Linked DNA regions of Homo sapiens. The protein of the gene in region 4 purifies or fractionates together with the protein of the main gene of each other region. This does not show direct contact. Each region holds a gene or a part of one and is shown on either strand. Other genes may lie near its edges. The genes, in order: ATP12A, HEATR1, EPHX4, HS2ST1, ERGIC1, GPC1 and ERMP1.

The links.
Region 1: the proteins of HS2ST1 (region 4) and ATP12A purify together in Homo sapiens (affinity purification with mass spectrometry; 3 studies listed by BioGRID and IntAct, with this or other methods). This does not show direct contact.
Region 2: the proteins of HS2ST1 (region 4) and HEATR1 purify together in Homo sapiens (affinity purification with mass spectrometry; one large-scale study listed by BioGRID and IntAct). This does not show direct contact.
Region 3: the proteins of HS2ST1 (region 4) and EPHX4 purify together in Homo sapiens (affinity purification with mass spectrometry; one large-scale study listed by BioGRID and IntAct). This does not show direct contact.
Region 5: the proteins of HS2ST1 (region 4) and ERGIC1 purify together in Homo sapiens (affinity purification with mass spectrometry; one large-scale study listed by BioGRID and IntAct). This does not show direct contact.
Region 6: the proteins of HS2ST1 (region 4) and GPC1 purify together in Homo sapiens (co-immunoprecipitation; one large-scale study listed by IntAct). This does not show direct contact.
Region 7: the proteins of HS2ST1 (region 4) and ERMP1 purify together in Homo sapiens (affinity purification with mass spectrometry; one large-scale study listed by BioGRID and IntAct). This does not show direct contact.

The regions. Positions count from the first base shown.
Region 1 is NC_000013.11:24,700,584-24,704,575, reverse strand, and holds part of ATP12A (potassium-transporting ATPase alpha chain 2), read right to left. Parts: intron 3,830-3,992; coding exon 3,654-3,829; intron 2,642-3,653; coding exon 2,505-2,641; intron 1-2,504. UniProt on the Homo sapiens protein: The catalytic subunit of a H(+)/K(+) ATPase and/or Na(+)/K(+) ATPase pump which transports K(+) ions in exchange for Na(+) and/or H(+) ions across the apical membrane of epithelial cells.
Region 2 is NC_000001.11:236,552,185-236,556,176, forward strand, and holds part of HEATR1 (HEAT repeat-containing protein 1), read right to left. Parts: coding exon 3,916-3,992; intron 3,756-3,915; coding exon 3,621-3,755; intron 3,472-3,620; coding exon 3,367-3,471; intron 3,281-3,366; coding exon 3,112-3,280; intron 2,569-3,111; coding exon 2,414-2,568; intron 1,556-2,413; coding exon 1,397-1,555; intron 798-1,396; exon of another isoform or gene 1-797. UniProt on the Homo sapiens protein: Ribosome biogenesis factor; required for recruitment of Myc to nucleoli. Involved in nucleolar processing of pre-18S ribosomal RNA. Required for optimal pre-ribosomal RNA transcription by RNA polymerase I.
Region 3 is NC_000001.11:92,028,418-92,033,053, forward strand, and holds the start of EPHX4 (epoxide hydrolase 4), read left to right. Parts: upstream 1-1,567; 5' UTR 1,568-1,662; coding exon 1,663-1,893; exon of another isoform or gene 1,894-1,970; intron 1,971-4,087; coding exon 4,088-4,173; intron 4,174-4,636.
Region 4 is NC_000001.11:86,917,513-86,921,504, forward strand, and holds part of HS2ST1 (heparan sulfate 2-O-sulfotransferase 1), read left to right. Parts: intron 1-3,992. UniProt on the Homo sapiens protein: Catalyzes the transfer of a sulfo group from 3'-phospho-5'-adenylyl sulfate (PAPS) to the 2-OH position of iduronic acid (IdoA) or glucuronic acid (GlcA) within the heparan sulfate (HS) chain and participates in HS biosynthesis.
Region 5 is NC_000005.10:172,837,009-172,841,000, forward strand, and holds part of ERGIC1 (endoplasmic reticulum-Golgi intermediate compartment protein 1), read left to right. Parts: intron 1-341; exon of another isoform or gene 342-565; intron 566-3,190; exon of another isoform or gene 3,191-3,862; intron 3,863-3,992. UniProt on the Homo sapiens protein: Possible role in transport between endoplasmic reticulum and Golgi.
Region 6 is NC_000002.12:240,459,410-240,463,401, reverse strand, and holds part of GPC1 (glypican-1 precursor), read right to left. Parts: intron 1,212-3,992; coding exon 820-1,211; intron 56-819; coding exon 1-55. UniProt on the Homo sapiens protein: Cell surface proteoglycan that bears heparan sulfate. Binds, via the heparan sulfate side chains, alpha-4 (V) collagen and participates in Schwann cell myelination.
Region 7 is NC_000009.12:5,823,000-5,826,991, forward strand, and holds part of ERMP1 (endoplasmic reticulum metallopeptidase 1), read right to left. Parts: intron 2,221-3,992; coding exon 2,093-2,220; intron 1,003-2,092; coding exon 897-1,002; intron 1-896. UniProt on the Homo sapiens protein: Within the ovary, required for the organization of somatic cells and oocytes into discrete follicular structures.

The DNA.
Region 1 (3,992 bases), on a different chromosome or scaffold from region 4:
CAAATTGGCAAAGCAGTCCAGGTTTATAGGAAGAAATGTGCCACCTATACTGAACAGGAGCACAGGAGGAGGCTAAGGGCAGGACCGTCGTGTGCACGTCACCAGCACATGGCCATCACCAGGCTAAAACTAGACAAAGACCACAAAAGATCCTTGAATGGAAGGCCAAACAAATCTTCCTAAGTAGGGAAGGAAGGGCAAATATAAAAAAGAAGCAATTGAGAAGATGCAGGAATAAGGTATCTTATATACAACTTTCATTAAAAATTGCTAAAATGGGCCAGGCGCAGTGGCTTACGCCTGTAATCTCTACACTCTGGGAAGCCAAGGCGAGCAGAACCCTTGCAGTCAGGAGTTAAAGACCAGCCTGGCCAACATCGTGAAACCCCGTCTCTACTAAAAGTACAAAAACTAGCCGGGTGTGGTGGCACATGCCTGTAACCCCAGCTACTCAGGAGGCTGAGGCAGGAGAATTGCTTGAACCCAGGAGGTGGAGGCTGCAATGAGATTTCACCACTGCACTCCACACTCCAGCCTAGGCAACAGAGAAAGACTCCATCTCAAAAAAAAAAAAATCTGCTAAAATTTTAAATTAAAGTCCCAGCTACTTGGGAGGCTGAGAGGGGAGGATCCCTTGAACCCAGGAGGTGGAGGCTGCAATGAGATTTCACCACTGCACTCCACACTCCAGCCTAGGCAACAGAGAAAGACTCCATCTCAAAAAAAAAAAAATCTGCTAAAATGAAGCTGGGTGCAGTGACACAAGCCTGTAGTCCCAGCTACTTGGGAGGCTGAGAGGGGAGGATCCCTTGAACCCAGGAGGTCGAGGCTGCAGTGAGCTATGATCACACCATTGCACTCCAGCCTGGGTGATCTGACAGGACACCTTGTATCTAAAAAAAGAAGACTCGGCTGGTCTGAAGGTAGTAGTGAATTAGCTCAACTGATTGTTCACAGTCAGTTACAGATCAAACTTCTACTCTTTCCCCTCTTCTCACTACTGCACTTGACTACTCTTAAAAAAATTTCTTTTAGTCCAGGTGTGGTGGCTCACGCCTGTAAGCCCAGCACTTTGGGAGGCTAAGGTGGGTGGATCACTTGAGGTCAGGAGTTTGAGACCAGCCTGGCCAACATGGCAAAGCCCCGTCTCTACTAAAAATACAAAATTAGCCAGGCATGGTGGCGGGCGCCTGTAATCCCAGCTATTCAGGAGGCTGAGGCAGGAGAATCGCTTGAACCCAGGAGGTGGAGATTGCAGTGAGCTGAGATCACACCACTGCATTACAGCGTGGGTGACAGAGAGAGACTCTGTCTAAATAAACAAACAAACAAACAAACAAAATTTGTTTAAAATTCTAAAGTGAAAAAAAGTATAATCCGATTATCTTACAAAACCAAACAAATAAACAAGCCCCAAAGTTGTTTTCATAGAGGGATGTTATGTATACTAAAGGGCACTGCAAGACTCTTAGACTTCAGGTACTGCTGCTGTGCCCAGAGGCGGGAACCCTGGTTGGTTGTCTAACGTGGTAATTTGTTATGACCTGACAGCTGTGTGTCCCTAAAAGACCTAAGTGCTTGGGGAAACTGAAGAGGTGCATTGGTCTTTCCCTCATCTCCCGCATGCGTGAAAACATAACCCAGCTAATGAACATTACTTCTCAACCTGAGAATTCGGAGTCTTTGACTCATGGAGACCAGGCACAGTCCAGGCCACTCTCCTGCATGCCCAGCTCCCTAGCCTTGTGTGGCTCCCTCATTACACTGGCCACATCATTGTTAGCTTTGTTTGTGTCTCCTTGGCTCGATGGAAAGATTCCCCAACGGTGTGGATAGTATTGTTCAGTTTGCTACTGTAGTTCCAGGTCTTGCCTGGTATATAGTTGGCACGCAGTAAATACTTGTTGAAAGAACAAATACATGAGTGAATGTACAGTTGGATGAACATGATTAAAAGAATAAGGATAAACATGATTAAAAGAATTAGGAGAAACAAGGAAAAAAACTTTCCTTAGGAAGCTTCCATTCTATCTATTACCAAATAAAAAAGAAGGGTGTGTTTACATAGCTACACGTTATGAAACCGGGTGGATAAATACCCAAGATGCTTACCAAGGAGGGTGCATGAAACAACCCACAGGGTTCTTACGATTCCAAATTATGCAACTGCATCTATGGCAAGTAATTTCACATAAACCCTTTGTTTCAGTTTTTCTTATTCTAAATTGGGCACATAGGTTTTGTGCCCAGGGCACACTGGATTTTGAAATTTCAAACAAGGAACACATAAAGGGTCATTTCATGGTATCAATACTGTGCCTGGCACATATTAGCTGCTCAGTGAAATTAGAGTGAATACATGGATATGCAAATAATAGCTCAAACAAGCCTAGCATAACTCTGAGAGCAAAAAGCTGATTTGTTCCAAGTAGTGCAGCTCTTTAGAGCCAGTGGGGCCCCATGGGTATAAACTGGAATTTTTACTATGCTGCTCCTGTGCTTACCGTTTGTTAACTTGCTCCACAGCAATGTTGAGGCGATGTGCAATGTCTTCCACTGTTTCACTGTTGGCTGAAATGATCCCCACACTCTTGGCAATAGCTTTGGCTGTGATGGGATGATCACCAGTAACCATAATAACCTAGAGCAAAGACAACGAGAAGGCCCACGGGTAATGAAGAACTCGGTTGGCCAAAGTGGGGATGGTTCAGTAATACCTACTCTGTAGTGCCCTGGGAGAACGTGGTTGGTGATTACAGTGGCAGCTCTGGATCTACGAGACAACTGTCTTTGGAGGAAACACTAATCCCATTGGGTCTACCCTTGCTCCTAAGCTTCATACGCTTCCTCCTCTGACATGAAAGGAAGCCCTTCCCCTTTGATGCCACTTTATTTGTGAAAGGGCTGGTGAGTGTCTACTTGGGGGTAGCCCCATGTTACTTCAACAGTCTTAATATTAACCTAGTAATGATGAACATGGATTATGGGGGCTGAGCCTCAAGACTGAGTAATAAAGCCTTTTTTCTTTCTTTTTTTCTTTTCTTTTCTTTCTTTCTTTTTTTTTTTTTTTTTTTGAGACAGAGTTTCACTCTTGTTGCCCAAGCTGGAGTGCAATGGTGTGATCTCGGCTCACTGCAACCTCTGCCTCCTGGATTCAAGAGATTCTCCTGCCTCAGCCTCCCGAGTAGCTGGGATTACAGGTGTGTGCCACCACATCTGGCTAATTTTTTTGTATTTTTAGTAGAAACGGGGTTTCACCATGTTGGCCATGGCTGGTCTGGAACTCCTGACCTCAGATGATCCGCCTGCCTCAGCTTCCCAAAGTGCTGGGATTTCAGGCATGAGCCACTGCGCCCAGCCAATAAAGCCTTTTAGTATCTACCATGGACTAGGGCGAGATATGGTCACTTCAAGGCACTAGGAGATTCTTCTCATTGCATTTACTGTTTATGTGGTTCATTCCACATAGACACAATCATTTTCTTTTTGTGGGACAGTTTCAGTAACCTTAGCACAGTGAAACTAGAAATAAAATAGGAATTATGATATTTACTTGAAGACACCTAAATACTGACCATCTGCTATGAAAACCATTATTAGAAAGGAACACGACATAAAGAAAGAACTTCTTGAGTCAGGAAAATAACTCCCACCTTGATCCCTGCACTCCGGCATTTGGTGACTGCATCTGGCACGGTGGACCGAGGGGGATCGATCATTGACAAGAGTCCCACAAAACAGAGGTTGGAGGTCGGAAAGTTCATAGCGTCTATGTCAAATGAGTAGGTTTCTGGAAACTCGTCTGCTGGCAGGTAGAGATGACAGAAACCTGTAATACAGATGAATTAGTGAGTCAGTGAAACTAGAATAGGAAACGAAAAAAAATAAGAGGAGAACATGCTCATACACCTTGGTCCTCTGCTGTTTTACCAATACATTAGAATAAGCCAGAATTGTTTAATTTCTTCAACTCCATAATGCATTTTTTTAGG
Region 2 (3,992 bases), about 150 Mb from region 4:
ACAAGCTCTAACTTTTTAAACATTAGTTCACATGCGTTTATTCACTTCATTATGTTCATTAAGCTTTCATCTTAGAATACCAGTTTCACCATTTGGGAGCTGTTTGTAATATGTGCAACCTTATAAATAGTGTTTTCCAAACTGTGTCCCAGGACTGCAAATCTTTAATGTGAAATGTCTTTTTATAATCTCTTCCTTTAAAAAAAACCAATAAAATAAAATGCCGCATGCAAACTCAAGTGTGTCACCAGATTTTACTTCATTGGCGCTCGCCAGCCCGCCAGGCTGGCAATAAAGTGCCTCCAGCCACCTCTGGCAGGTCTCCTCACCCACAGCCCCTGACTGGTCACCACTATAATTGTATGAGGGGCCAGGACAGTCGCTTGGGATAAACTCCCATCTCAGCACTGAATAAAAAACATTCTGTGTCACAATATCCTAGTTTTGGGGCTTTAAAAACGTCTAGGTGTTCCTCACATGCCTTGTCTATAATAAGGAAAGCAAGCAGTAGTTGGGTATTGTTAGCTTTTGAAACAAAAGCCCTACTGGTCTTCTAATTTTGGATATTTTAATTAAAGAATATCTGGACAGTACAAAGTGAATTATTAAAAAACCATTTGTAACTACCTAGATTCAATCAGGATTTCCTTGATTTGTGCAAAGTAAAATATTACAATAAATTTGATACTGCTACTTGTATAAAAACCTATGGTTTAAAATGTGGGGGTTCATCATAATAGTCTCATTGTTAGCATATCCTAATAAAGAATTTGAACTAATAAATCCTATTAATAAAATTCTGCTTTGGTCTGTTATAGCCAGTAAAGTTCTAATACAATCATTAGTTTGAGAAATGGTGACTCATTGCTAAAACAGTTTGAAATTCGTAACACTTGGGTGTCAAATTTTGACTTCCACTCAACCTACCCATGTTTTATTTCCACTGCCACCACTTACTCAACAAGATCATAAGCCTAGTATCTATAAACAACAGAATGTATTGCTCTAACTCAAAAGACTATAGTGTGGATAAATTCAATGCATTTCTCTCTGGAGCACAATGACATTTCAATGGCACTTAAAAAAGAAGGAATTACTTCAAATCTTTGTTATTTAAAAGTATTTAGAAAGTATTTTAGTACTTCTGCCCAACGCACCATTGGGGTGGGGATAGGGCATTGCTATTCTTTACAAATAGCCTGTAAGTAAAAAACAAAATTTTCTTAGGCACAAATTTCTGCCTAATACAAAAGACCGGACCTCTAGTACTGGATGACAAATAGCAATGTTCTTCCCTGCCAGTTTACTAGGGGGCCTACATCTGTGACCACCTGCAGGCTGTTTAGGCTATGCAGTGAAAAGATGCAGTTTCAGTACTTGTCACGCAGTTCCTAACCTTAGGCGAGGAGTCTCTCGTCTTTAGCAGAATCTGGTAGTTCAGTGGTTTCCAAAGAGAGTCATCCGCCATGGCCACCGAAAACTGTGCGATGCATGGTATCAGGTGCTTTGTCACCCGTTCCTGGAATTTCTCTTCTCCCCCAAGCCTGTTTTCCAGCTAGGAAGAGTAAGACAAAGACTTTGAACAACAAGTCTCATTTCTTTCTTCTGTTTGAAAAAATATCCAACATACAAATATTTTACTATCTTTCATGATATTAGCAGGTTCAAAAACCAGGCATTATTCTAATACTCTCTAGGGCAAATGTATTGCCTTCTAGAACTCAAATGGAATCTCATACCCTTTATCATCGCCCCTTTCTCTCCAGCAGAACATCTCAGAGGAGCTCTTTGCTCCAGAGGACAGCCATGCTCTGACGCGTTCTCAGTGAGGCCCAGTTAAAACAAATGAATACATTAACCATGACAGCTTATATCATGTCTGTCTTTTGAGCAGTTTAAAAAATAAAAAATAAAAAATAACTCAGGGCCAGGCATGGTGGCTCACGCCTGTAATCCCAGCAGTTTGGGAGGCCAAGGTGGGTGGATCACTTGAGGTCAGGAGTTCGAGACCAGCCTGGCCAACATGGCAAAACCTCATCCCTACTAAAAATACAAAAATTAGCCAGGTGTGGAGGCGGGCGCCTGTGATCCCAGCTATTCGGGAGGCTGAGGCACAAGAATTGCTTGAAACCGGGAGGTGGAGGTTGCAGCGAGCCGAGATTGCACCACTGCACTCCAGCCTGGGTGACAGAGCAAGACCCTGTCTCAAAACAACAAAACAAAACTCAAATTCCACAATGAAGTTATATCTTTGAAAAAACAATTTTCAAATAAAACATTTCATTAAAAAGACCAGAAAAAACAACCTTACAAAGAAAAATCCTAGCAAGCTGTCATTTGAGCAGATCTAAAACCTGCCAAGCTCGAACAGTGATGGCTTCCTCAGCAACGAAAGATGATTCTGTTTGGTTACCTGATCCACCAGAGGCATCATCAAGGCTTCTGCTCTCTCTTTACTTATAAAATGCTGGGTATCAAAAAGGAAGATTTTGTATAAACAGTTCAAAATAAACTGCAACAGCAAGCAGCACTTTTCAGGGTCATTTTCAGAGTCAAAAAATGCTTCATCTGTAGACGTGGGAAGAGTAAAAATGAAAAAACACTGAACTTAACCATTTAATCTCCAATGTTTACATTGAAATCACTATTAAAATAACTAAATCAGAAGAGTCTAAAATGATCTAGAAATCATAATCAGGACGAAGGCAGAACACAATGGATGGTCTCTCGAAGAATGATTCCTTCTTTTAGAGTTAAGATTCTAACACTCACTCTGGCAAGTTAAATTCCCTCAACTGTCAAGTGGGTCACGTATTAGCATTAGAGAATAAACTAATCTTAATTTTTGCGTTTTAAAGTTACTTCCAGTAACTGACAGTAACGGCCATTTACTTTATTCTTTCTCCCAAGTGAGGTGACTTATAACATTCGCTCATGATGCTAAAACAACACTTCACTGTCTGACAACAATGAAGTAAAAAATTCACCCTCCTTAGCTTAGGACTTAAGAACCTCTAAAATCTTGCTTCCAAGCACTAGGTTGTGTCTTACTGGTACCTTGTATAAGGCACACAGGGCAAGGGTGACAGCTGAACTGAAGCGACCACCCACCTGTTTTGGAGATGTTCACCTGGTTCAAGGTGTCAGCAAAAGGCTTCACTAAGTGGCCGGCAAACAGAGTAAAAAGCCCTTTCAGCTTTTCAGCAATGCAATCTGCCAAGTTGTAAAATGTCAACAACCTGTCCTTTGGGGCATCTTCTGTTTTAGCCCAATCAAACAGCTGAAAGGATAAGACAGTATTAGTTTCTTCGACATCTTGTCACTTAAATCTGAGCACAAAAGAGAGGAAGAGGAAGAAAGCGTCACCTTGAAGAACAGGGGCCTGAATGTGACCTCGGAAAGTTTGACAACCATGGCTACTAGACAGTCAATGATACAATTTTCCGTTTTTCCAACTTCCTCCAGATCGTTCTGAAAACAGAAGAGCCCATTTATTAGAGTGCTGATACCTGACTGTAAATTATTTTGGCAAGTACCACTGTTACACGGCTAGATTGTTCTCGGACTCTTCAATAGGTGGATAACAGCTTTAGGATTTGGAGGAGTGAACCTGAGCTTACCTCAGAGTGCTGGGCTCGGAAGTCCAGGGCTTCCAGGAAAAAGGCGGTTAGCTGAGACTGATGGGAGGTGAGCTCTTCCTTCTTCATCACCCCAATATGCTCTTGCAAGATGCTCATAAACGGACCCATGTGATTCTACCAATAACACAGGAAAGAGATGTGCCATTTTCAAATGATTCCTAGAGTTCAGCGGTGTGTATTTTTAAAAACTAAATCTTCTTCTTTAAGTCAAAGTTTACACATTGCAGTACCACCTCTCCCTTCTCCAAAGTCTTAATACCCAATAAGATCTAACCTTCCAGTTCTTCTCAATCTGCTTGTAAGTTTTTTTGATGGCGGGCAACAGGACTCGGGGTGCAAGTGTGGTAGCCA
Region 3 (4,636 bases), 5.1 Mb from region 4:
GGCTGAGGCGGGCGGTTCACGAGCTAACCTGGCTAACACGGTGAAACCCCGTCTCTACCAAAAATACAAAAAACTTAGCCGGGCATGGTGGCGGGCGCCTGTAGTCCCAGCTACTCAGGAGGCTGAGGCAGGAAAATGGCGTGAACCCGGGAGGCGGAGCTTGCAGTGAGCTGAGATGGAGATCGCGCCATTGCACTCCAGTCTAGGCGACAGAGTGAGACTCCGTCTCAAAAAATAAAATAAAAAGAGTACTGAGAGAAATGTATAGGTGCTAAATGATTGCATTAGAAATTGCAAAGGTCTCAATAAGTTCCTAACTCAAGACCCTAGAAAAAAAGAGCAAAATACAGTTAACCCTCAAACAACATGTGTTTGAACTGTGTAGGTCCACTTACACATGGATTTTCTTCCACCTCTTCCCTCCCCCTCACCCCAAGACAGGAAGATCAACCTCCCTTCTTCTTTCTCCTCCTCAGCTTACCTAACCTGATGATGACAAGGATGAACACTCTTAAGATAATCCACTTCCACTTAATGAATAGTAAATGTATTTTCTCTTCCTTATGATTTTAACATTTTTCTTAATTATAAAGATACAGTATGTAATACATAAACATATGTTAATTGTTTTGGTCAGTAGTAGGCTATTAGTACTTAAGTTTGGGGGAACTCAAAAGTTATACATGGATTTTCAGATGTGAAAGGGTTCAGCAACCCTAACCCCCCGCATTGTTCAAAGGTCAATTGTATAACTCACACATGCTGAAGTAAATTCAAAATTGTACAGCCACTTTGGAAACCAGTTTGACAGTTTCTCATAAAAAATGAACACTTAATACCTGACCCGGTGATTGGGAAAAGGCTTAATGAAATTCTAACAGTGAACTGGACGATAGAAGAGGTCAGGACAAGAGTGGCCATGTCGGTGCTGAGGCTGAGATACCTACCGAGGACTGTCACTCTCACGGCTTCCAGCCCTTCGACGAACTCTCAGGTGTGTGGCCTTCTGGCCAGGCTTCTGCCGCGTCACGTTGTTGAAGCATTCGTTGTATCCCTGGGGTTGCAGCTCTCTGTAAGTTTGCTGTGGCTGAACCAGGCAAGGCATAGGCGGATTTCTACAGAAATTATGATTCCACGAAAGATTTTGAGAAGAGGAAGGCTGGTATCTTTCAGAGTGCAGAGTGATTTTGCACTCTAAAGAATCTCTTTGGGTGTAATAGCATGGAAGTTTGTCGCTGACCTGTGTCCCTGAACTATGACACACGAATATGTGGGCTTAGAAATAGTTTTGCTTGATACATTGAGAACAACAAAGAAGACTGAGTGGCGCTACCTTCTTTGGTGCCCAGGATGGTTTGGGAAAGTCTCGCCTTCATCCTCCCCCACAGTTTTGCGATTTTGAAACGGGATCTCGCTCTCCGCGGAAGACAGCCAAGCTCTGCACCCCGGCCTGGCCCGCCGCACCCCGCAGGCCCGGCTCTCCCCTGCGCGCTCCGGGCTGGGCGCGGCGCGTGTGCGGAGCCGCCGCGGTGACACGGAACGCCGGCCGCCCCGGGCCGGGGGAGGCGCGCGTCGAGAGGCGACGGCGGGCTGGCCTGGCGCGCTGCGGCGCTCGCTCACCCGCTCCCGAGGAAGGGCAGTGGGCCCCGCCGCCGCCTCCCAATGGCGAGGCTGCGGGATTGCCTGCCCCGCCTGATGCTCACGCTCCGGTCCCTGCTCTTCTGGTCCCTGGTCTACTGCTACTGCGGGCTCTGCGCCTCCATCCACCTGCTCAAACTTTTGTGGAGCCTCGGCAAGGGGCCGGCGCAGACCTTCCGGCGGCCCGCCCGGGAGCACCCTCCCGCGTGCCTGAGCGACCCCTCCTTGGGCACCCACTGCTACGTGCGGATCAAGGTGAAGGGCCGCGCGGGCCTGGCGGGAGCGGGAGGGAGCGTGACCGCCGCGAGGGTGGGGGGCTCCGGGCTTCTCCTTCCGAGACGCTGGCTCAGCGTCCCCTAGTGTCCTGGCAGGAGGGGAGGAGGGGTTGGGTCCCTGTGTGTCGTGTGTGTGTGTGTGTGTGTGTGTGTGTGAGAGAGAGAGAGAGAGAGAGAGATACAGATAAACAGCACTCGGTCTTTGCAGGCACCTTGATTGGTTTCTGAATGTGGAACTTCTCTAATCAGGGGCCTCTTATATTACTGCCCCCCGGCGCCACAACAACCCAGAATAAACCTGCTCTTTTTCCTACTGCAAGGGGAAGCTGTCTCCTGTCACCCTTTTGCCCTTTAGAGCTCAGATCAGCTGTAGAGAATTGTTCCTCGTGGCATCCTAATGTCTCAGGAGGCTGTTCTTGCCCAATTTTAGAGATAATAAGAGTAAACAGTCAGTCTTTGGGAGTCATGAGTTTATTATGATCACAGACGACTTAGGTTGCATGAAACAATAAGTAAATTGTGTGTGTTGTGGGGAGGAATGCATACTTATGAAGTCAGGGACCAAAGAAAGGAATGGAATAAAAGGTAAATCCAGCCATGCCTGCAGACGCTAATTGTTCAAGCTTCCTCACAGCCCACAAATATTCTGTTTCCTGAGGCTCCAGGTGGTGAAGGGAAATAGTTCCCGTGATACACCCTGCAGTCTGACTCACAGGCCTTTCAAACCCAGCCTCATAAGAGGGGATGTTTATGTCACCAAGTCCTTATTTCCTGTTAGGAGCTAAATTGCCCCGCAGCTGAAGTTCAGAAGGGCAAGAGAACTTCTTTCTTGCCTGGGGTCGACATGAGAATTAAATAGGTTAATATTTATAAAAACAAACACGAAAAACTTAGAACAATGCCTGATGCATAGTCAGTGCAATAAAGTATCTGTTAATTAAATCCATTGCAGTGCCCATAACATTTAATCCTCCAAGACTCACCACCAATAAAAAAAGTTATTGAACCTCTAGGAAGCCATCGTGCAGCTGAGGGTAAAGTCAGATTTGTTATCTCTGTTCAACCTGAGGGGTAAAAGTAGTATAAGAACCATCTGGAATTCCATAAAACACTTTTCCCCTCGCTCTGGCCGCCTAAAGAGCTTCCCCAGAGACAGAGAACCGAGTGGAAAGAGCATTGTCCTGGGAGTTAGGACAAGATGGAGATTCTGGTCACAGCCCTGCTCTCAACCATTTTATGACTCATGTTACCATCTTTGGGCCTCATCTTCTGAATCTGCAAAATGATTCTTTCACATCTGAAAACTCAGTTGCTTGAGTTGCCTGCTATAAAAACCCAATGTCTGTGTTTAGCTTTTGGTTCTTTTTGTTTCCTAGCTTGCTTGCTTTCAGAGATTTTTATTCCTGCTGTTCCCTCTACTTTCCTCAATTCAGCCTGCTTAGTATTTGCTTGAATTCCTGACTCATTCCCATGTTTTTTTAATTTTCCTTGGGTTTTCTTGTCTCCTACATGCAGAGTGAAGTCTTGAGCACTCAGGGCATTCTCTTATTAGAAACGCACACTGACATGACATGAGCAGGCAGCAAGGGGAACAGAACATGCAACACTCAAAATAATAATGTGGGAAGGAGAGACCTAAAAATAAGAGAAGGAGGTGTGAATTATATAACTGATGGCACAGCTCTTGACGGGCAAGCTGAGAAAAGTAGATGACTAGGATGTAAACATGGCAGAAATATAAATTCAGATTAGAATTATTTACATGTCCTGCAGCATTTGAGGGAGATGAAATGTGACACATCAGTAAGATGAAAGTTACAAATGGTAAGATGAAAGTTACAAATTGTGACATTGCTTCAGAAGCTCATAATATATAAATTGACTGTACTAGAACAAGAAGAGAAGGTACTGTCAAGGGAGTGTTGACAAAGTGAATCTGTCAATTTACCCTATTAATAGGTCATGGGGTTTGCTTTTCTTTTTGAAAATTAATAAAAGTAAATATATTTCTTGATGTTAAAAATAAGGCAACTGAGTGTCATGAAGATATTGTAAATACACAAATGTTTTAAAATAAGGCAAGTTACTATTTTTTTAATGAAATGGAAATGCTAAATATATTGCTTTGTCAATCAACACAAACATCACTAAAATTCCATGCCCTCTACTTTCAGGATTCAGGGTTAAGATTTCACTATGTTGCTGCTGGAGAAAGAGGCAAACCACTTATGCTGCTGCTTCATGGATTTCCAGAATTCTGGTAAGCTTACCAACTAACATTTATTGTTACATTAAAACTTGGCTTATTTTCTCAGTTCATTTTGTGCTGCTGTAACAGAATATCACAGTCTGGGTAACTTAAAATGAACATAAATGATTTTCTCAGAGTTCTGGAGGCTGGGAAGTTCAGGATCAAGGTGCCAACATCTGACAAGGGCCTCCTTGCTGCAACATCACATGGCAGAGGAGGAAGGGCAAAGAAGCAAAAGGGGGCCGAAATTGCCCTTTCATAGTGGCATTATTTCCATCCATGAGGGCAGAGCCTGCATGACCTAACCACCTCTTAAAGGTCCCACCTCTTAATACTGTTACAATGGCAATTTTTGAGACAAGGTCTTACTCTGTCACCCAGGCTGGGGCACAGTGGCATGATCACAGCTCACTGCAGCTTTGAACTTCTGGGTTTAAGCAGTCTTCCCACCTCAGCCTACCAAGTAGCTGGG
Region 4 (3,992 bases):
AGTCTCAAAAAAAAAAAAACCAAAGAACAACAGAAAGCCATTTTTGCAGATGCAGGAACAGGCTTAGAGAGGTTATATAACTTGCCCAAGACCACATCGCATTTAAGTGGCAGAGCCAGGATTGCAACCCAGGTATGTATGATTCCAAATCAAGTGCTCCTTTAATTATGTCCGGCTGCTTAAGACTTTATATTGACATTACGCTGAGATTTAGGTATTTGAATAGAGTTTTAAAATTGTAATATCAGTGTTTAATTGCATTTATTGCTAAGAATGAATATCATTCAGAGAAAATTGAATTTCTGATACAAAGGAATTGGTTTAATGTAACGTCTGCCCCTTGTTTAGATTCATGTAATGAACATAATTATGTTACCCAATGAAACAACTGAATTAGATAGCTTATTTTTACTATAGGAAAGAAAAATCTAGCTGTTTTCCATACGTGCAAAATCACAATGTTAAAAAAGCATTTTTATTTTGGCATAAAAAACCTATTAAACATTTTGTCCTTAAAAGTAGTTATTATCATTTTCATTGTAGAAGATTCCAAAGGATAGTATTGTCTGATAGTGGCTTTAATATACCTTGATTTGAGAGTACAGTATTTTGATGGTGAGACTTCTAATAGAGCAATAGATGTATTCAAAACTGAGGTGTACTCATTGACTACTTGGGAAATTCACTAATTAGGAATTCCTAAAAAAAAAAATTCAGTAATACAGCTTTTTATTTTTATTTTTTAAAAAACAAATATGGCATTGTAGTCCACATATTACAATGCGGCTTGCTTTTTTTGCCTTGAATGTTATACACATCTTTCCAGGTCAGTACATATAGATGTGACTTACTCATTCTATTAATAATAGCTGTATAATATTCCAAAGTATGCATGTATCATAAATTATTAAGCCATTATTCTAGTAACGGACATTCAGTTTGTCCCCCATCTGTCGTGTGTGTGCGTGTGTATATATACATATATATATAATTTTTTTGAGTGTTTCTTTTCTTTCTTGGTATTATAAACAATTATAGGAAACATCCTTATGTGTCCGTTTAACTCATGTTGATGTCATTTTGTGCTAGGATGAATTCTGTATGTGAGATTGCTGGGACAAAGAATATACATATTTTATAATTTAACAGATTTAAAAATCTACTTTTCAACATTTTTTTGTTTTTCAAAAGATGTAGTAATCTACACTGCCAGCACACATTCATTAGCACTAGAAGATAATCAGCTTTTAATTTTTGCCAGTGTGAAGCTGTGAAATGATATATTCAATTAATTTACCTTCTAATTTCTAGGTAGGTTGAACATCTTTACATGTTTATTGCCCTTTTATTTGTTACTTTTTTCTATTTTTCTATTGGGTGGTTTACTTTTTTTTTTAAATATTAGAATTAGTAATCCTTTATCTATCCTATGTCTTTTTTAAATTTTTTTTATTTTTATTTATTTATTTATTTATTTATTTTTTTGAGATGAGCCTTGCTGTCACCCAGGCTGGAGTGCAGTGGCACGATTTCGGCTCACTCCTGCCTCAGCCTCCCAAGTAGCGGGGATTGCAGGTACGTGCCACCACGCCCAGGTAATTTTTGTATTTTTAGTAGAGACAGGGTTTCACCATGTTGGCCAGGCTGGTCTTGAACTCCTGACCTCAAGTGATCTGCCCCCCTCTGCCTTCCAAAATGCTGGGATTACAGGCATGAGCCACTGCACCCGGCCTCTTATTTGTTTTTGTCCAAGTTTGCCATTTGTTTCTTGACTTTATGGTGTGTTTTGCTCATATAGAAGTTTTAAAATACACACAGTTAAATCTATCAATTTAGGGAAGTCGTTTTCATATTTTGCTTAGGAAGACTTACCCAGAGCCAGGATTGTGTACATTTTCTGTATTTTATTATAGTATTTTATAGTTTATTACATTTGGCTCTTTAAACCATTTGTATGTTTACAGAGATTTATCATGATTTTCTCAGTAAATCATTTTTTCCAACTGTATGTTAACATTCCTTCTTTTAATCACATACTAAGTTTTCATATGTTCTTGGATCAATTTTGGATGCTATTTTCCATTAATCAGAGATTCTTTAAACCTCGGGGACCCATAAATAGGCTTCAAGGTATCAGTGAATTCCCTGAAATTATATACATAACTTTCATCAGATTTGCAAAGGAGTATGTGATTCCTTTAATGGCAAGGATCACAGATTTATAGTAGATGTTTCATATTTAGTGGACTTTTTTTTGTTTTTAGTAACATAACGTGCAGATTGTGAGTTAAATTTAGGAGATAAGCTTATTACCTGTGAAAAAGAGAAGTTTTTCAACTTCAAATGAAGTTAATACTTCATTGTATTAAAATGTAGACTTAATTTTCTAGTGAGAAATGGAAAAGGACAGGGAATCCAAATGAAAACTATTTAACTGTGACTCGTTACTATAAAATGTCAGAATTTGTGGCTGGTAAAAAGTAGTTCTTCCCGAATTTCAAGAGCGCACTTGTTGCTAATATTGACTGGTCGAACAGTGCAGTGAAATATTTTCTCACATAAGTGATAGAACTATGTGCTTGGTAACTTTATTTTCTATAGGGTTTTAGCATTGTAAATAATATTTGTTGACTGTATTCTTACATCTCTATATGGATTTATGAGCACATTAGGAATAATCTTTTACATGGGGAAAATAATTGAGAATGGATTATGTAATCATCCATTGGTGAGAATTAATGTTAGTCATTATGTTCTTAAAACTCTACTAGACTAAACAACTAATTCCAGGGCCAAGGTTGAGACTGCTTTTTGGAATTTGGTAGTTTTTACAAGTAAGTTCCTGAAACCATGCAGCAATACCTGTAAGATGTTCCAGAGAATGCTAGATTTCCTCACTTCTGAAATCATTTGGAAAACCTCATAGTAGCTACTGTTTTGAGGACTTTGGGTTAATAGGAATACAGTTATTCTAGAATTGGTAATTGGTGCCTCACTTAGTCTTGAATAGGATGTCTAGTGCCATGGAGTAGTCACCTGAAATAGTTGATCTCAATTAAGATAATTCCAGGATGTCTGTCCACCACTCTGGTAGGCCTTCTAATAGCTTTTTGGCACTTAGAGAAATTGAAATAATAATGAATGTTCAAAGATTGCTCTCCAGAAGACCATTTTTGAAGGATGTACTTATAGATGAACTTCATAATCATGGTTCACTATAGCCTAGTTATTTTTAAGATCTACCCACCTACCAGTACCTGTACTTACGTATTCTGCCTTTCTGCCTGTTAACAATAGATGGTAACTGTCAGTGCTCCTGTTCGGTCATTTGTGCACCTGATTCTGTTGCCTCACTTACCTAAAGACATGGTTCCCGAAGCTTTCCCTCATTCTCCTGTCACAATGTATTCTTGAAAATTGCTAAGAGAGTGGATTTTAAGTGTTTTCACCATACCAAAAAAAAAAGTATGTGAGGTAATGCATGTTGTCTTAATTAGCTTGATTTAGCCATCCATGATATATACATGTTTTAAAACATGTTGTACATGATAAATATATACAGTTTTGTCAATTACAAATAAAAAAAAACTATCTTGGTAAATGTTCCAGGTGAACGTGAAAAATATGTATTCTGTTGTTATTGGCTGAAGTATGCTGTAGATGTCGGTTGGTAGTATTGTTATGGTGTTTTGTATTCTTGATTTTTTTCTGCCTCTTCATCAGTTATGGAGAGGGGTTTTGAAATCTTTGATAATTGTGGATTTGTCTGTTTTTCTTGTAGTTATGTCACTTTTTGCTTCATGTATTTTGAAGTGCTGTGATTAAGTATATGCACATTTAGGCTGTCATGTCTTCTTGATGGACCAACCCTTTTTTTTATACAAGATACCATCTTTATCCTTGGTAATATTCTTTGCTCTGAAACCTACTGCTGTGGTGTTAATGTCTCCCCCAAAATTCACATGTTGGAAACTTAATCTCCGATGCAACAG
Region 5 (3,992 bases), on a different chromosome or scaffold from region 4:
GGAGAGATTGGAGGGGCCCACCATCCTGTCAGCTCTTTTAAGAATTGTGGGGAGTGGAGAGGGGTATACCGTGATTAGACCTCCTCCCCCAGTTCAAGGCCAGGGAGAAAACCAGCCGTCCTGCTCGTGTTCCCCTTCTTAAAATCAGAAGCAGGAAAAATAGTGCACTCTTGCCCTTCCCTACGGATACTTCTGATTTTCTTACTGCCTGTAGAGCCTGGTGCAACTGAGTTCTGTGTTTTCCTGTCTGTGAAATGGGAATGAGGAGAGTACTCACCGAAGTAGAACAGTTGAGGGATGAGGCAGTGCGGAAAGCATTTAGACACAGAGTAAGCGCCTCATCCATTTTGGCCGCCATATTTATTTGTGTCATTTTATTTAAGCACCCATCATCTCCTAACACATTATATAATTCACTTAATTATCATGCTGCTTCTCTCTCCCTCCCATTAGTACATGAGCTCCTGAGGGCAAGAAGTTTTTATCAGGCTTCTTCAAGGTTGCATCTCCAGCACCTAGAACTGTGCTTGAGCCAAACTCGATCCTTGGAGATGCCTCTTGAAATCTGTCAAGGAAGCCATAGACATGACGTGACTTGATATGCCAGCTTCAGTGGGCAGATTTTCAGCCATTAGTGGAGAAATCTCCCCTCTCCACCCTTGAATCTGCCGTTCCTAGGTTGTTTTTGGGGTTAAGGAAGGAGGCAGAACGCAGGGGAGGGAGGCTGAGCTTTCAATGATTTATTGTGTTTGCTTTGCTCTTGTTAAATTGTTTCACTAATGGCTGGCTGTTGCAGTTGTGGAACTAGCCTTGTGACCCACATCCGTGTGTGTTGTTTCGAGTTCCGGCTGGCCTGGGGCCAGTAGCACCTGCTGCCTTCTGCACACCAGCCCAGGGTGGGTGAGGAGGGAAGATAACAGCATCCGGAAGCCCTGTGCCCAGGCCCAGTGGTGCCTGAGCACTGCCTTCCGGGAGGTGCAGGTGGCTGCTGTCCCACAGTGACAGCCCCCATGTTGAAAACCCAAGGCCTCGGGGGTGCCGCTGCACTGGCACTGACCAGATGTGCTCTGGGACCATTGACTTCCCCTCTCGGAGCCTCCATTTCTTCATTTTAAGGAGGGGATGTAAACTTCGCTGCCTCACCTGGTAGAGTAGATGTAGGGGCAAGTGTGATCAATGCACACTTGCAGGATCAATGTGCAATGCAACTTGCAATGCAGGATGAGGCCCATAATTTGTGGGGCCCAGTGCAAAATGAAAATGTGGAGTCCCTTGTTGAAAAAGTATTAAGAATTTCAGGACGGCAGCAGCAGCGCATTCAGCCAAGCATGGACCCCCCTCTGAGTGTGTGACCCTGTGTGCCTGCACAGGTCATGCGGCCCTGATGGGGCTGGCCCTGCTGCAGGGCCTTGGTTTGGCCTCTACCATTTTTCACTCTGGCCTTCTGAGTGGTCTTTCTCCCTCCAGGATACCCCAGACCTCCTCAGGACTCCCTAGTGAGCTTTCCAAAGTTGATCTGATATTTTCATGTCCTGATTTCAACCTTCAAATGGGTCTCATTGCTCTAAGGATCCAGTGTGAATTCCTTTTTAAAAAAAAATTATATAGAGATGGGGTCTTGCTATGTTGGCCAGGTTGTTCTTGAACTCCTGGCCTCAAGTCATCCTCCTTCCTTGGCCTCCCAAAGTGCTAAGATCACAGGCATGAGCCACTGCACCTGGCCCAGTCTTAATTCCTTAGGCCCCAATAGGGAATGGGACCCTGGTAGCCCCATCAGTTCCTACACCAAGCTAAGCCTCAGCCACCACAGGGACCTCTGAGCACAGAGTTAACATTCAGCAGAGAGTAGCTAACATGAATGCCTGTATTTCTACCCTGCTGTTTCTTCCAGAAAGAATTCCAAGGAAGCTGACAAGAACATATACTTTACAGCAAGTTTTAAAAAATATAAAATGAGCGCTGTGGCTCATGCCTGTAATCCCAGCACTTTGGGAGGCTGAGGTGGGCGGATTACCTGAGGTCAGGAGTTTGAGACCAGCCTGGCCAACATGGTGAAACCCCGTCTCTAATAAAAATACAAAAATCAGCCGGGCTTGATGGTACATACCTGTAATCCCAGCTCCTCGGGAGGCTGAGGCAGGAGAATTGCTTGAGCCCGGGAGACGGAGGTTGCAGTGAACTGAGATCTTGCCACTGTACTCCAGCCTGGCCAACAGAGCGAGACTCTGTCTCAAAAAAAAAAAAAAAAAAAAGTATATATATATGGGCCAGGTGTGGTAGCTCACACCTGTAATCCCAGTACTTTGGGAGGCCAAAGTGGGAGGATTGCTTGAGGATTGCAGGAGTTCAAGACCAAGCTGGTCAACATAGCAAGACCCCAGACCCCATCTCTATGGGGAAAAAAAAATGGCCAGGTGTGGTGATGTGCGTCTGTGGTCCCAGCTTCTTGGGAGGCTGAGGTGGAAGGATCTCTTGAGCCCAGGAGGTGGAGGCTTCAGTGAGCCATGTTCATGCCATTGCATTCCACACTGGGTAACAGAGCAAGACCCTATCTCAAAACACACACACACATACACACACACACACATACACACACATACACATACACATATAGCCTTAAAAATCAGGGCAAAAAGAAAATAAAAATTAGACCAGAGAGAAAATTATGTGAAAAGGCCAGTATTTCGGGTTTATTGAACATTTGCTAGTGCCAGGCACTGTTGTAAGGATCTTACTGTATCAGCCCCTTTAATTCTCCACAGTCCTACAAGGGAGGTGCTGTTGTTACCCCACTTTACAGGTGAGCCAGTGGAGGTGCCACAGAGTTCGGAAACACGGTCGTTCCCGTTCCTGGAGCTGGGATTGGAACACTGCCATTTGGCACCAGAGCTCCACTGTGTCCTGTAGGCTCATCTCTAAAGCTTTCTCTTTTCCATTCACTAAATTCAGAGAGAACTGAGAACTCTTCTAATTGGATTCATTGGGTTTCTCTTCACTAATCCTCACCCAACAGTGCTCATTAAGAAGCTTAAAGCCATCAACTTTTTTCCCCCTAGCCTCATGTAGCGTGATACCTGATTCTGAAATGGTCTTTAAAGACCCTCACACCAGCTAATGGCATCACCCTCGAGGGGCTCAGTTTTCCCACGCTGACCAGTGGGGGTTTTCCAGCTTAGAGCATCATGTTTACCTGCTCGCGGGGACATGGAATGAGATGGAATGTCCTCTCCTCCCAAGGCCGTTTGGATTCCTGACTGTGGTGCTGTAGTAGCAGGAGACAGGGCTTTAGCCAGCTGTGTCCTGGTTAAGTTACATTCCCCATCTGGTAATCCTTTCGTATTTTATTTGGAGTTACTCCTAGCCAGTTTTTGTCAGGCGTGGGAGAGACAGGCAGGGTGTGAAGAGGGTATTTGGGGTGAGGCTTACCCGGTACATCTAAATCAGTGAGCCTCAACCCTGGCTGTATATTAAAGTCTCTCATGTGATTCTAATGCACAGCCAAGACGGAGGAGAAGTGCTCTGAATTGGGAGAAGCAATAGCAAGCAGGGCTGAGAGCAGCAGGGGAGCCAGGTCGGGTGGCGGTGGAGAGCCTTGCCTCGGGAGGCTGGGGCGTGGAGTTCCCGTCCCACCCATCACTCCTGCATGACCTTCGGCAACTCTGTTACCCCACCAGTGAAGTGGACAGTAAGGGGCCGTAACTTTCTACTAATAACCTTGCTCTTCAAAGTGCAGTCCCAGATGCCAGCTTCAGCAGCACCTTGGAGCTTGTTGGAAGTGGAGAATCTCAGTGCCCACCTGGAATCTGAATTTGTATTTTAACAAGATCCCCAGGTGATTCATGTATTCATTAAAATGTATAAAGCCCTGGTCTGTATGATTGATTTGACTCAGTGTCCTCCAGTCTGTGTCCCTCCATGCCGCACTGGCTGCCTCACTGAGGACTCTGAAGAGTCCGGCACTGAGCGAACCAGAGTTATTTGGTTCAGCCCAA
Region 6 (3,992 bases), on a different chromosome or scaffold from region 4:
GAGCACAGTAGACCAGCTTCATGACAGCTCTCGAGCACTCCGGGCCCAGGGGGACCTGGGGAGCAAGGGACCCTAAGCCAGGCCCCGAGGCCCTGGGGGTGCCTGGCCCCGGCCAGCCCCTAACGAAGCCCCAGGGTAGGGGGCTCTGGAGGGAAGTCAGGGGAGGCCTCTGCTCTGCCCCAGCTCGTGGTGGTCGCTGCCTGACTCGCAGGGCCTGCCAGCCCAGACGGCCCTCATTTTAATGATCTCGAGGGTCACAGGGAGGCAAGAATATCCTCACCCGCATGCCGCTGAGGAAACCAAGGCATGACTTGCCCAGGAGCCTGGAGGTGGGGGCAGTTCCCACCCAGGGCATGTGGGTCTGAGGCTGACGCCCTCCCTATGTCCCAGCTTAGCTGGGTCTGACACGTGCCCCGCAAGGGACCAAGGCATCCCCCTGGCCTGCGAGGCTCTGGGGCCCCACCCTGCCCGGCCCCCACGCATGTTGTTCTCTTCTGTCTCCTCTGCACTTTCACTCCACAGCCTGGCTCAGCGTCCAGCCCCAGCCCCTGGCCCTTCCCATCCTGGCCCATGATGGTTCTGGGCAGGGATGGGCCAGCCCAGAGCCGCCTGCCCAGAGCAAGGCTCACATCTGTGGGTACGCTGTTAGCAGGCCATGGGCAGCAGCCAATGCAGGAGGGACTGAGGCTGTGGGGCTGAGGTCAGAGGCTGGCCCAGAGGCCCAGGGGCACAGGGTTAAAGTAGGGGGAAGAGGAAGTCCCTTGGGCAGAGCATGGGGGTCTGGAGGGGTTTCTGAGAGCCCTGGGTGGCTGTGCGCACCTGAGCCACTTTCCGGACCACGTCGCTGGCCACGCCCAGGCCCTGCACAAAGGAGCGAGCAGCCACGAAGGCACGGGTGGCCCGCAGGCGCAGCTCTCTCGGGGCCTCCCCGAAGGGCCGCAGCGCCTCGGCCTGCTTGCCCAGGCAGTCCAGGTAGTCATCAGGCAGCAGCAGCTGGGGGTGCAGCTGCTTGAAGAGGCGCTCGAGCAGGCGGGCCCAGAACTCGGCCAGCGTCTCCTCCAGGTGCAGGTTGGCACCGCGGTAGTACAGGCGCAGCTCTGAGTACAGGTCCCGGAAGGCCCTCGCGTTCTGCGTGTACAGCTCTCCGAAGGCGCCGGGGAAGGTGGCCTGCAGCGTCCGCTCCGAGTCGTTCAGCAGGTGCTGGAAGTGGTCTGCGCACAGGGAGGGGGCGTGATCGGGACCATGTTTCCCCCGCCGTGGCAGCTGGACCAGAGCAGGGGACTCAGCCCGGGAGACTCAGCTCTGAGGATACACTCTGAGGACCTCGGAGTCGGACGCCACACTGCAGCGGCTGTGGGCCCTGTGGGCATCCATGGGGCGCCCCGAGACCTCACCCCCTGGCCTGGGGAGCAGGGGCCCAGGTGGCAGGGGGTCCTCTCGGGTCTCAGGGCCTCTGACTGGGGCTCCAGTGGCAGTTTCTGAGCTGAGCCCTGGGCAGAACAGATGCTCTGTGACTCAGTGACCCCCTGAGAACACCCAGGGAGGGGCTGCTGGTGGAGATGGGGACTCACTGGGGTAAGAGGGGCAGGGCCGGTCTGTGCCCCCCTGCCAGCCGCTCCTTCTCTCCACTGGTCCCCACTTGTGCTCCCCGTGGCCCCAGCCGCCTGCCCTGCGAGTCTCCAGGGCTGCTGCCCCTCCCGCCACCCTGTCTCGGCTGCTCTCCTAGGCTTCTTGTCTTCTCTCAGCTTCTGCGATTTAGAAGCTTCAGCTGTGAGCACCCCGGGCCTGTCTGAGGGCTCTGGGGGGCCTCCTGCAGCCTAGAACCCCAGACATCTCCCCTGCTGGGCAGGGGGTGTGGAGGCACAGGCTCACCCTCAGACCTCCACATGTGCTGCAGGGGCTTTAGGGAAAAGCCCCCGTACCCCGGGCCTAGATGGGACCCTGGACTTCCCCATCCCATTTGGAAGTGGGACTTCCAGGTCTGTAACTGCTCAGAGCGTCCCTAGGGCTGTGGCCGGCTTTGCCCCACAGGTACCGGGGGCTCGATGGCCCACCACAAGGTGCTCCAGGGTAGCAGGGCAGAGGCTCTCCTTTGAGGCACGGGGGCCGTCAAGCCTGAGATCTCTGGATCAGCCCCCACGCTGACCCCTGGCAAGGCCTGGGGCTTCAGGGCTGGCAGGGCTACAGAGAGCTCCCAGGCCGCTGTGGGGAGGGTGGACGGGCCACACAGCTGTCCAGTGTCCACCTTGGGTCCTGGCGCCTGGAACGCCCTGGCCTGTCCCGGAAAGGGGCGGCTTGTGGTTCATGCATTAGCCCAGACACACCTAGAGGGCCATGGGCCAAATCCAGGTGCAGTCCCCAGCTCTACCTCCTGCCAGAACCCATTCAGCTGCTCCTGAAGGCTGGTGGGGGGGCGGACACAGGGCTCCAAATCCCTGAACACAGCAACCAGAGGTCCAGCCAGGCTCCCCTCCTACCGCCTCCCACTGGTTCCCACCAGCACTGCAGACAAAGACCCAGGGGCCCTCAGCTGCCCCGGAGGCTGGGAGGGGACAGCAGCTGCCATGGGCAGGGGTGGGAGGGGAGGACATAGGAGGTGGGGGTTGGACAAGACTCCCTGGGGTAGGGGCACAGGTGGGCCTTGGGCACATCACATAGTGGGTCATTTTTAATACAAATGTCCCCAAAGGGTGTCTGTGTTTTCAGGTCAAAGATAGGAGAGTTGAACAGGAAGGCTGGAGGCTTCCAGAGGGCAGCAGAGGGAGGGCGGCGGCAGGGCACTGACACGGGACAGGCCCCAGAGCAGGGCAGCGACACCAACCCCCTAAGAGCCAGGAGGAAGCAGGCGGGCAGGATGTCCCCAGGCCAGGAGGATGGTGTGATGGGCAAGGGTATTAGCAGGAGAGGGGAAGGGGCAGGGCTGGGTGGCACGCTGGGGCGGGAGCCAGGGCTCAGCGGCGCTGGGGAGAAACTGAGGCCCAGGATAGAGTGGAGGAGGTGAGCCGGGTCCCTACACATGGGACAGAACCAAGTGGCTCAGGAAGGCTCCTGACTCAGGGTGCAGGGGCTCGCTCCCCGGGTCCAGCTGGGCAGGAGGAAGGAGAGTCCCAGAGGGGCCACGCGCATCCCACGGGCCCCACACCAGCGGGGAGGGCTGAGCTCTGAGCATCGATGTCCAAGTCACAGAGAGGGAGCTTCTGACCCACTGCTACCCAGGTGTACGCCAACAGCTGAGGTCCCACAGCCCTGTGGAAATGGCCTTGGGGGCTCCTGGGGACAGGCAGACTCTCCCGGGAGCCTGGGAGGCCACAGCAGGTGTCCAGGAGCCGGAGAAGCAGGAACGCTGAGACAAACCCCAGGGCCCCAGCAGCAGCTGCCGTCCCTCACAGCCACAATGGAGCCCTGCAGCCTCAGCGCTCCCTCCCTCCTGTCTGCCCAGGCTCACTGTCCCGGCGCCCTGGCTCCGCCCGGACACAGGGGCAGTACCTCAGCCCGGGCCGCCTCCCTCCACCAAGTCCTCGTGTTTCTGATCAGAGGTCACTTCATGGAGGACCTCCTGACCCCACACTGTCCCCCTGGGGGTGGCTGCCACTCTCTGCCCAGACACAAGGCGAGGCCCAGCCTGGGCCGAGGAGTACGTGGCTCTAATGCAGCAGCTGGCGGGGCCTCAAGGCCTGCAGGGGTCACTCCCCGCGGCCCCCAGACTCCTGCCCCGATATAAAGGGCTGAGTGGCGGCCACCCCAGGCAGGCCCTGCACTCTGCAGCCCTGTCCCCAGCCCCAGTCTCAGCCCTTGCACTGAGCTCCCTGGCTCCAGGCCACCTGGTCCCCAGGGGCAGTGGCCTGGGGCACTTGACGAGCTGCAGGCAGGATTTGGCCAAGGCCTGTCTCCCTGCAGGTGCTCAGGAGAATCTGCTGGTGACAGGAGCCTCTGAGGGGCTGATGGGATAGGCCCTCTGTCCCCAAATGTGCACTGGGAATGGGCTGTGCACA
Region 7 (3,992 bases), on a different chromosome or scaffold from region 4:
CTGGGCCAGGCATGGTGGTTCATGCTTGTAATCCCAGCACTTTGGGAGGCCAAGGCAGGAGGACCACTTGAGCCCAGGAGTTTGAGACCAGCCTGGGAAACATAATGGGAGCCTGTCTCTACAAAAAAATTTTTAAATAGCCAGGCGTGATAGCAAGCACCTGCAGTCCCAGCAACTCAGGAAACTGAGACAGGAGAACCACTTGAACCCAGGAGGTCAAGGCTGCATGATGGCACCAGTGCACTCGAGCCTGGGTGACAGAGCATGGCTCTGTCTCTAAAAAAACAATAAAATAAAAATTATTCTGGCTGATTAAATATTACTAAATTTTTTTAACATTCCACTAAATCAATGATAAATTTAAACCTGTTACATACACTACAGGTAAATTTTCTCATTTTAACTCATGAAATGATTGACATTTAACAATATTTATATCATAACCACCCACAGTGGCTAAAAGTTCACTACCTATATAACAATCCAATTAGAGGTTAAGAACAAAGTTTCTGGACCCGGACTGTCTAGGTTCAAATCACACTCTGCCATTAAACAACTGTGAAACCTTAGGCAAGTTATAATCTCTCTGGACTCAGTTTCATCTCTAAAATGGAAGTAACAGTACTTATCTTACATGTTGTTTGGAGGATTCAATGACTTAATATATATGAAATGGTTTGAACAACACTTGGCATATAATAAGCACTATACAAGTGTTAGATGCTGCATTATTTGGTTCAAAATTTTTAACAAAGACAAGCTAACACCACCTCATGCTTTAAAAAGAATGCTCATTCAAGAGACTGTTTATTGAAGATATTATTTATAATCAAAAACTTTCTACTTTTACAAAAACTAGAATTGCATTAAAATATACAACGCACAATCTCACATACCTGTTTGGAATACAAGTTCTTTCCCTCCTACACCTGCTGCCTCTAGGTTAATGAATGCACGAATCAAGCTAGCCCAGGGGTGCTGAGTAATGAAACCATGACTGGCCTTAAAGAGAAGGAAAGAAAACAAATATTTGTTAAACAATCTTAAATTATCAGTCTTGATTTTGCTTAAACACAGAGAGACTACTTTGATGAGGTAAGGAATATGAAAACAAAATAATCGCTCTTCAAAGGCAGTATCCAAAGACATCTTCTGCTTCTTTTCCTATGCATAATGGCCATGCACATCAGGTTCGGAAAGTCACCTATCACAGAAGGCAGCCTGGTGACCATCAGCGGTGCCAAACAACATCCCTGGTAAGTACAAGGCTGTGCAAAAGAAAAGGCAAAGAGGGCCAGGCACGGTGGCTCACACCTGTAATCCCAAAACTTTGGGAGGCCATGGTGGGAAGATCACCCGAGCTCAGGAGTTCGAGACCAGCCTGGGCAACATAGCGAGACTCCCTCTTTTTTTGTTTGCTCATTTTTGAAACAGAGCCTGTGGCCCAGGCTGGAGTGCAATGGCTCGATCTCGGATCACCGCAATCTCCACGTTCCAGGTTCAAACGATTCTCCTGCCTCAACCTCCCGAATAGCTGGGATTACAGGCACCCACCACCACGCCTGGCTAATTTTTGTAATTTTAGTAGAGACGGGGTTTCACCATGTTGGCCAGGCTGGTCTCAAACTCCTGACCTCGTGATCTGCCTGCCTCGGCCTCCCAAAGTGCTGGGATTATAGGCATGAGCCAGCGTGCCTGGCCCCCTTCTCTTTTTAAAAAGAAAGAAAAAAAAGAGAACAGGAGAAGAGACGATCCATATGGCTGGGCATTTATTTGTGCCTGTCTCAAAACATCTCTGAAACTTCAATGTCAAAGAAAACCTGAGGAGAGTAATTATGCCAGCGAGAGCCCTTCTCTCAATCAAATCCTGCCACAATAATCTGCTAAGTGGAGTTTTCCAAATATTAAACATCTCTACATAAGTGGTTGTGAATTTGTTAAAGTACTGCTCATAAAGTATTTTTCTGCATATTATTTTATACTACCCACAGGAGTCATAAAAAATGCATTTACTATTTAGTAAATAATATTTAGCTATTATTATTAATCTCATCCTTATTCAAGCCTGATATTTAAAACAGTAAAATCTCACTTGCAAGACATTTTCCTCAGCACCATTAAAGAGAAATATGACAGCATGATGCAAGGCTTCTGAAGATGTTGACAAGACGCGAAGGACTTCCAGCATCACTGAGCAGCTAACTGCATCATCACTGGCACCTTCAAATCAGAAAAACAAATTTGCTGCTCAGATTTTAAAATGTTTACAATATGACCCATTAGGACTAGGAATGGAGCTTTCTCCTCAGAGAAGCATCACAATAGCTGCATGACCAGAAGCATAGCTCTGTCATCATCAGGTGACAATCACACCCACCAGCAGTAAGTTCCATGAAGGGATCTTTGTCTGGTTTGCTCACTGACTTACTCTCAATGCCTACTACCATGCCTGACCCACCAGAGTCACTCAATTAGTGTCTGCTAAATGAAGTAACCTGAGGGGACCTAAAGTCATACTGGAAACTGGTATTCTCAGCAAACCAAGGCAATCTGTTCTATTCTTTACCCGTATTCCACATCCTCTGTAATAGTCTCACTTCTGGTGCTCACAGCTTCCTGCATCATCTCCCACTGCACCCACTCCTTTCTTGCTTGTTTTCCTGCCAAAATCATAAAAGCTGCACAGAGAGGTCACTTTGGATGGTGTAACATTCCTTTAAGGCTTCTCCAAGGGGATTATGTGATGGAAAACTAAAAAGAAGATACCTAATCTAGTAAGTCACAGGAAAGGAGACTAATGACCTAAGTAGTATCCTAGGTCCCAGAACACACACTCAGTTGAATCTCTGAACCTCTTCTTGATTCAGAAATTTTGTATGTTAATTAAAAGTAACTATAAAGATGACTTAACTGTCTTGCTTTTTTAAAGCATTGTAAGAGACAATTAAAGGAATTGATTGGATATTTGATGATACCAAGGAATTACTGTTAGGTTTTTTTAGGTGAGGCAATTGGTGGTATCAAAAAGGGCCCTTATCTGCCAGCAACACAGAGTGAAATACTTTTAGAGAGGAACTGATATAGCTAAGATCTGCTTCAAAATAATCAAGAAGTTGGGAGGGTAGTGGTAGGAAAGAAACAAGATCAGACTGCTGAAGCTGGGAGATAAGTACACTGGGGTTCATTAAACAATTCTGCTTTTGAATATATTTGAAACTTTCCATATCAGAAAACTTAAAGAGTAATCAAAGTAAATAAGCACTAACGTAACTCAGGCAGTAACATTTCTGGGTTTACACATTTGAAGCAGGGTGCCAAAGAGTTTGGCGTGGATTTGAGAGCAAGAAAGATTTGGAAGTAAATTTGAGCTCTGTCACTTTACTCCACTATTTCCTGGTTGAAAGAGCAAGCTAATGATACCTACCTCACAGGTTTAAGAGTCACACAAGATAATGCCCAGTGCCTAGCACCTGGTAGGTATTCAATGTTCATTTTTCCCTCTCTTTGCAAATCTGAGGAAGGCTCTGTAGCTAGCTAAAATTAAAATGCTTGTTTGGGCTCTGTTAAATTCCAGACCCCATTCCTACTTAAGAAGAAATTACCTATTAACCATACTTGTCTTGGTGGTGATTACTGGTTTGTATTTCAATCGAAGTGAAACAAAGTAATAATCATTTAATTACTATCAAATAGAAAATGCTGCTATTAGCAAAATGTGTCACCTTCCAAAAACCTAATGAAATAAACTCTCTTTTTAATTTGACACTGTGAGTTACTTTAAAATAGAGAGCAAACAATAAAATGTTTCTTTATTCAAAAAGAGAGAAAGGGAAATTGAAAGGTATCTATACAGGGTTGATTAAAAAGTTAAACTGTCCATTCAGCTTCCCTTATTTTAATGGTTCTGGTGCGTTAAAAGAGAACTACAGAAGAGTCAAATATCTTTAAGAAAGGGAAGGAAAGTTAAGAGGACAGTATCTATAAGGGCTAGG